3 separate regions of the Homo sapiens genome follow, and regions 1 and 3 are each linked to region 2. The links come from fine-mapping of genetic effects on gene expression. Tissue or cell type: whole blood. Region 2 holds a variant in brackets; each other region holds the start of a gene. All regions are shown on one strand. Distances are from middle to middle.

Evidence for each region. PIP is the estimated chance that this variant, and not a neighbour inherited with it, causes the effect.
Region 1: TSPAN6 starts here. The variant in region 2 is fine-mapped to the expression of TSPAN6 in whole blood (TOPMed, PIP above 0.99). The same link has a PIP of 0.9 or more in T cells, blood mononuclear cells, esophagus muscle, gastroesophageal junction, lung and pituitary.
Region 3: it holds the start of SYTL4, and the variant in region 2 is fine-mapped to the expression of SYTL4 in whole blood (TOPMed, PIP above 0.99). The same link has a PIP of 0.9 or more in blood mononuclear cells, caudate, esophagus muscle, gastroesophageal junction, nucleus accumbens and putamen.

Annotation. Positions count from the first base shown.
Region 1 is chrX:100,635,293-100,637,792 of GRCh38, forward strand. TSPAN6 (tetraspanin 6) reads right to left here and starts at 1,514. Exons shown (of 8, transcript NM_003270.4): 1 at 1,316-1,514; 2 at 266-454. The coding sequence starts at 1,402. RefSeq lists enhancers at 478-1,093, 1,094-1,709.
Region 2 is chrX:100,672,977-100,675,723 of GRCh38, forward strand. SRPX2 (sushi repeat containing protein X-linked 2) reads left to right here. Exons shown (of 11, transcript NM_014467.3): 11 at 1-2,747. It overlaps SYTL4 (synaptotagmin like 4), which reads right to left. Exons shown (of 20, transcript NM_001370165.1): 20 at 1,515-2,747. Among named protein-coding and RNA genes, the nearest start is that of SRPX2, 30 kb to the left of the region's middle. The variant G/C (reference allele first, on the strand shown) is at 1,559.
Region 3 is chrX:100,730,753-100,733,252 of GRCh38, forward strand. SYTL4 (synaptotagmin like 4) reads right to left here and starts at 1,369. Exons shown (of 20, transcript NM_001370165.1): 1 at 1,252-1,369; 2 at 666-753.

The DNA.
Region 1 (2,500 bases), 38 kb before region 2:
ATATAGCACAACTGCAAAGGGAGTCAAAGAAAAAATAATGGTCGTCTTCTCAATTAGTTCATCATGTTTTCATTGAAAAGGGCAGGGAAAATAACAACATGTCTATTTTGAAAGTGGAAACTGGCAGCTGAACTGTTACTTGATAAGTTTCCATAAGGAACAGGAAAAATTGTAAAGGGCCATGGCCAGTTCCAACAAAGGAATTCTATAACATACAAAACTTTTCTAAAACCAAGAATCAATTCTAATGAAAACAAGGACTCACCAGTTTTAGCATCCATGCAGAAGCTCGGCAGGTAGCAAAACAACCAAAGGTGCCCAAAAGAATAATGACGGTACCAGTAGCAATGAGCACGAAGGGGACATTGGTGGCCTTCTCATTTAAAAGAGAAAAGTAATTCTCCAGGCTCACCTTGCCCCAAATGCCAACTGCAAGAAGGATAACGCCAGTGATCTATGTGGGAATTCAGAGAATACAAACAGTTACGCACTGTGTACAGCAGCATCTTCAAATCACAACGCATGAGGTATTTAAGGCACAATAGGTGTAATATGCTGGGATACGGCAGACAAGGGGGAAGAGTAGAAGGGGTTAGGGGGGGATCTGCACACAAGAGCAGGCTGTGGACCAGGTATCTTATCAAAATTCTTAAAATTCATCTTTTTGTGTGTAAACACAAGCCCATGGCATATTTGCCCTAGGGATCAAAACTTCCTTAACTATCTTACTCCAACCTTAGGAAGAAAACCTTGAAGGGGAAAAAAAAAACGTGATTTTATGAGTTCCAGAAACTTCCCCCGTCCTCTCCAGGTAGGGATGGGCACAGGGTACAAAGGACTGGTACACAAAAGCAAGCCCAAGGATAGACTGGCGGGAGTGGAGGCATACCATACTTACCTGCGAAACACTCCTCTCTTACGAAGCAGTGAAAAGAAAGACACTATTATGCAAGTGAGCCCTCAAAGGGGCCGGGCAAGCCTTGCTTGCCTTTGCAAAGGTCCAGGGTCACCGTCTGCGTGCTCTGGGGGCTTAAGGCCCCACCTCGCCTCCCGTATCGAACTCGAACGCTGGTACGTCTGGGTCCCAGCTCAGCCTCTCGGCTGCCTTCGTCCCGCACTCCGACCCCAGCGCCGGCGAGATGCCTGAGCTCTTTGTTCGGGGCCCAGTCACTGGTCGCCGGCGTCGGGGTCCCAGGCGCGATGGCCGCCCAAACCCCACACCGTTCCCGACCTGAGCTCCCGCCGCTCAGGGTCACACCCCCCACAACTAAAAGCCCGGGATCCCCTGCCGGCCCCAGGCGCCTTCGTCTCTCACCCAGAAAATAAAAGTGTAGATTAGCAGAACGCTCTTGAAACAAGTAATGACTGGTTTAGTCTGCAGTCTCCGAGACGGGGACGCCATGACTAGCCCGAGACCCTGCACCACCGCACCGGGCGATTGGAACACAGAGAGCGAGACGCGGAGTCCCCGAGTCTCCCCGGAAACTGCCGAAAACTTACGAGCGTCCACAACTGAGAAGGGCCGGAAACACTGTACAATTTTGTAGAGGGTAAAGTATGGGAGGCTGTCCGGAAAGTGGCAACAATTTCAGAGCGCCCCCTGCCGAAGGTTACCGAAAACTATATACAAAGGTTCTAGTGTCGGAAATTTCATAGGTCTTCAAGTGGAGCTTTCTTCATTGTTTTTTTTCTATCCTAAGGAATCTTTCCCGCCCCCCACCCCTCCCCTCTCCTTATAACTTCACCATATTGTTTCTATCACCAGCAGAGCCCGCAGCGCTCTGAGATTGGGCCTCCCTGGCCCCTGGTGCCCTAGAGAGAAGGAAAAGAATGAAGAGGTTAAAAGCGACCTAAGAAAATACATGGGAAAATACCCACAAGAAATATATTTGCAAAAAGAAAGCGGATTGCAAAGCAATACATACAGTCACGTGTGCTTAGACAAAAACTGAAAGGAACAGTGAAATTTACCTCTGGTGGAATTAGGCTGATTTTTTTCTCACTTGTGTGCTTTTCAATTTGTGAACATTGTTTTATGGGTTAGGAAGGGGAGATGTGAATGGAGGAAAATAATCACCACTTGTTGAAAGAATTTCTAAGCTAGGTATTAAAGATAATAATGACTTTAGAATTTACCTGCAGGACTTTGCAAAACCCCAGTATTCCTCTCCTTTTTTATCCCCTAAGTAATTGGAAAGTTGAGGGAAAGTATTTTTACATAATAGTGAAATGTAAGTTCAGCTATTCGCTGTAAACTTTTAAAAAGAGAGAGTGCAATGGAAAAATCCCTGGTGAGTGTGACCTCCTCTTAAATGTTAAAACAGAAAGGCACTGTACATTCCAGCCACCTGGTTTTTCCCATCAAAACCCAGCTGATTACAGAGAGATTAAAACCTAATGTTATATATTGTGAATATATTGGTCTATGTTGTTACAACACAGGAGGTGCGTTAAGGTCTGATTTCTCAACTAAAGCGTCAGCTCTTTGAAGGCAGAGACT
Region 2 (2,747 bases):
TGGAGCAAAAAGGTCCCTTCTCCCTCTTCCCTCCAGGGAAATATGGGAACTGTGAGAGGCAGCAGGCAAGTTATGGGCAGAGGCAGATACAATGAGTTCATGTGGGAAATTTCTGGTCAGACTAGCTCTGTGGTTCCAAAGGCAAAGACTGCACCTTGGGCGAGATGAATGCCCTTCGTTGTCTTTATCACTAACACTTCAAATGGGGCAAGCCAGGACATACTAGCAGGTCAAAGGCCCAAACAGCGGAGGCCTACTACCTCCTGAACAGAGCTCCACCTGGACCTGACTCAAGGAACATTTATATGCAACTGAGGAGCTTTTGTTTCATTTCATTTTGAATAGTCAAGTCAGTCTTGCTTTCTTTAGGTAAAGTTTTACAGTAACCTCCTTTGTAGTCCTTTGAAGATGAGGATTTGAGAAATCCCAACTCCTAAAGTAGGGGAGAGACAGCAGCAGAATATGACCCACAGCCAGACCCAAAGGGGCTAGCCCGACCCCTGTATATATTGTACCTCTCTCTCTGCCCACCTCTCCCCCACTTCTCCCCACTGCCCCATTCTCTCTTATCCTGCCTATTCCTCTCCCCTATTTCTCTGTCTCTCTCTCTCTCACATACACACACACTCACTCACAAGCAGTACAGTCACTAAGTTGGCTAGGTAATATCCAAAGCATTCTGATTGTCCTACTTTTTGTAAATTGAACTTATTTAAGATATTTTAGAAGAGATGAGTCACGTCTTCCTTTGACCCTTCACCCATAACACACATACCATTCTCACAGGAGGCCACATGGTGCAGTAGAGTCAGACTTTGATTCAAAGCCCAACTCTGTCACGTGACAGTAGGCTTGAGTTTCCTCATCTGTAAAAAGGGAAGATTTCCTACTTCATAAAGTGGTTGGAGAAATTAAAGAAATAGTATATGAAGCCTTGCACATAAAAAGCATTTGATATATATTAATGCCCTTTTGCACAAGAGGTCAAGAATTGCTTGGGTTCTACCTAGAAATCAAGAGCCTTATTTCTGAGCTGGGTTACTTGGCACCTGTGTTATTTCTCTCTCAAAACTACATAATGGTAGGAGGAGTAAAAGAAAAAGTCCCCGCCTCCCAGAGAAATTGAAGGATCCAGAAAGAAGTGCTTATAGCAGGGAATGTCTCCCCTCACCTCCTGTATGAACATCTCTCTCCTTCCTCCAGTATAGGAGGGTCTGCAAAGCTAAAGGAAGAGTTCCTTTGTTACAAGATAGAAAAGTGGTGCCACTTTAAAGATGATTTCTCAGTGTTCTCCTTAGATACCAAATACAAAGGACGAGGGATCAAGCTCAGCGAAAGTATCAGGCATTTAAGGTATCAGGCAGCAATGCGGGGAAAGGTGAATTTTCTTCAATCAGCATAGGATGGTTAGGGAAGAGCATTTATCACTTTGGTTCTTATCCTTCAAGCCAGGGGAAAAGCAACAGTGAGGACATCAGAGACAAAAGCATTTATAGAACTAACAAACACAAACGTTTGACAAGTGAGAAAGCTTTATTAAAGCACACATACATGTCAG[G/C]GGGGTGGGAAACAAAAGAGCAAGTTACAGCCCGGGATCCCAAGTTATGCCTTCCATTACAATTGCAATCCACACCAAATCAATCTTTGAAAACATTCCTCCATTCGGTTCATACATACAGTAGAAACCACTGTGGCTGCCCTTAATCCAGTGTGCTTATAGGAAATCAGTTAGCAGCTGACTCTGTTGAAAGGGATTTCCTCTCTGCTATACACTCCTTCCACACACAACTTTGGGTAGAAACGCTTATGAGAATAGAAAGGTCAGTTTGATCAATGAGTACCAGAAGATGAAACTTAGCTCACTAGACCCTTCTTTGAAAAGCCTCAACACACTACACCCATGTAATATGTAGGTCAAATTTAGGAAACAATAGCAAAAACAGGAACTGAAAGCTCATCAAGCAGGAAGTCAGAATAACAGGGAGACTCTGTCTACATTCCCTTAGAGCCCTTAACAGTCCCCAGCCTGGAGAAACACTGGGCCAATTGAGATAACACTTGGCTCTTCTGGTTGACACAGTGGGATGTAGACCATGCTCTGTTTGATAACACACCCCAGACGCAAACACTAAGACAGATGTGGTACATGAGGATGAATATATCTCATCTTTCATTCGAGAAATGAGGAGCTCTCTCTCCAATGACTGCAGTATCAGTTTAAAATGCAGAAAATTCAGCATGGGCTGTGAGACACTTTACCCTCAGTCACTCTGGTCCTCTGAGATCAGCTAGAAGCTCTCACTGGGCATCCTCGTGATTTAGTCAAAATACATTATCTAATTAAAGTGCTTTTCAAAAGCAGCTCCATTATAAGAGTCCCCCAAAGGTCTAGTAAAGATATCTAGAACTGGAAAAAGCTTGGGAATTCTGTTAGCATTTCAAAGAAAAGCATTAGACCAAAGCAAGGTGGAAACTGCTTAAAAACTAGAAAAGTTAAATTTAAAAGCCAAGTTCCAGAAGTTTATCCAGGTAGAAAATAAGTTAAAAGCATAAATTGGAGAGGAGAAAGAGGAAGGAACTACTCACCTCTCCCCAACATTCCTGTCTTTACTAACCAACCCTGCTTCCCAGAGCCTTAAAACCCAGACTGGTCCTAATGCGAAAGGTAGCCAGGGCTTCCTAGGGAAGTAGGAACAATGATAGCAAGACAGAAGATAAAAAGTTGTTTTAAAAGCTGTTTTTAAGTT
Region 3 (2,500 bases), 58 kb after region 2:
AGGGCCTCACAAGCCAAGTTGGTGGTGCTTTTCTACTAGGGTGCTAAAAACCAAACAACCAAAAACGCAGAAAACTTCATCAAGGCCACGTCTCTGCATTAAACATTGTTCCCACAGCGACAAAAGTCTTAAGTCATTAATACCTCAATATTAATAGATTTATGAGAGGTGGGGGTGGGGAGCTTAAAGAGCAGAAAATAAGCCAGTTAAATATAGGAGGTCCAGGATGTACAGAAGACTCATTTTTGCCACAAATATACAAGGTCTAGGGTCAACCCTGCCAAGCACAGTACTCTGGAATTTTACGTCCTCTAATCCTGAAGAAGCAGGGTACTGGGGGAAGAAAAGCTTGATTAGAAAGTCACCACTTTTCAAGCCACCAGAATTCTAACCAAATGATTTCACCACCCCAAATCCCACCTCATTCAATGTTAAGGGTTGGAGGAACACCTTTTTCTGCCCCATTACAAACCAACACAGGAGACAGAAGCATTCTGTGCCCCTTCTGAGATCTCGGGGACCCTCCTCCAGTACCAGATCTCTCACAGCCTGCTTGAAGAGCGGCAATATAAAGCAGCTCCACAGCACACAGCCAGGTCCCCAGCCCCAAGCGCAGAGGGAGCCCACTGAGGCAGGACTCCAGCCAACCAGCCTCCAGCCTTTACCTGTGGCTGACTGGCCAACGCCAGAGAAGCCGCGATGTCGTAGGTCCGAAGAGAGTGCGGGTTAGCGACCCCGCTCGACGGCCGAGCGCTGTGAGAGGAACCCACGAAAAGGTGACTGGACGCCTTGGAGGGCGCAGTTCCCGCTAGGAGCTCGGCCCCGCCCCCGCCCCCAGGGCCAGCTCTCGGGAGGGGCACCAGCTCGGGCTGGCGGGAAAAAGCCCGGGCACTCCCCGCGAGGGGAGCCGAAGAGGAGAGGGGAGGCGGCTCCCAGAGGGGCACAGACCGCATTAGTGCTGGGTGGGTCAGGGAAGGGGCCAGAAGAAGCCCTGGAGAAAGAAAAGTGGCCGGGAGGGACCGCCCAAGCAGACGGGAGTCCAAGCCTGGGGATGCGGTCGGGAGAGGCGGACGGGGAGAGGGGAGACGCGGTCAGCTAGGGAGAAGGAAAAATTGGGGGACCAGAGAGCGGGTAGGGAAGACGCACGACCCCGAGATGGGGGTGGGGGCGCTTCAGCAGCGAAAAGGAGCTGGGGGTCCAGAAGGAGCACCGGACCGAGGGCGAGGGGCCGGCCGCTGGCTGTTGACCTACCTGTCACTTGCAACAGGTGCCTCCAGAGATCGAGAAGTCCCAGTGCCGGTTTCAAGGGAGGGTCTCCGGCTCCGGGAAGATCGCAACCCAGCTCCGGCAGCCGGCCCTTCTCACCCTCCCGGGAGGCGGAAAAAGCTGCAACTTTCCCTGGAGCGGGGAGGAGCTGGACTCTTAAAGGGGCCGCACAGCGCCCCGGGCTCCTTAGCAGGGGGCCACTCAGCCCAAAAGGGAGCTCTGGGACCCAAAGCCTTGAGACACAAGAGGAATGTCCTTCCAGGTTAGGAATGGGAGCCTGGGGACTGAGGATAGGGGTCTAACACTAGACGTGCCTCCTCACCCACTTACTTCCATCTGTTGGTCACTCTCTTAGACGGTGAAATCACCTGTCTCTTTCGTTCAGCTGAGTCAAAAGTTGTCAAATTGTCTCACACTTCTAAGAAGATAAAAGAGTATGAACTATCTAATTTGAGTAAATAAAATATAATACCATTCTGATCCTTTGACTTGTGGCCTTTTATGGCAAATAAATGTCTGTCTAAAATAGAAACGTTTTGGGCAAAAGCGTAGACTAAATTCATACATACACACTCAAGGACACAACTGGTTAAAATATCCAACTCACTAGTAATCAAAGAAAAGCAAATTAGAACAATAATGAGATTCTTTGGCAAAGATATTTTTTATTTTTTAATAACACTTAATGATGACAAAGTAGCCACCAAACAAGCTGTCTTAATTGCTGATAGCAGCATATGTTGGTTAAAAACCCTTTTAGAAAGCACGTGAGCAATATGTATCAATAGACTTGAAAATGTTTATACCTACCCAGTAATTGCAGATTCCTCTCCCTGCCTCTCCCATCCCTCTCCCCCTCATTTCACATCAGCAATTAAACATGCTCAAGTATCTACCATCTTAAAAAAAGAACCTCCCTACACAGGAGGTCCCTCTTCAGGTCCTCTTTATGGGCAAATGTATTGAAAATGTACTTCACAGGTGAAATTGCAATTTTTATTCCCTTACTTCTCATTCATTTCTTAGCTCTCAGCAGTCTGGCTTCCTTCCCCCACTGAAACTTCTCAATGAGATACACAAACAATGACCCTCAGTGTCAATAAATCCATAAATAAGTAAGGTATTTTTGGTCCTTATTTTGCTTGACTTCTCCCCTACATTTAACACCGTTAACCATTTCCTCGTCCTTGAAACTTTCTATGGCATCTATGACATTTTACTCTTTTGCTTTTCC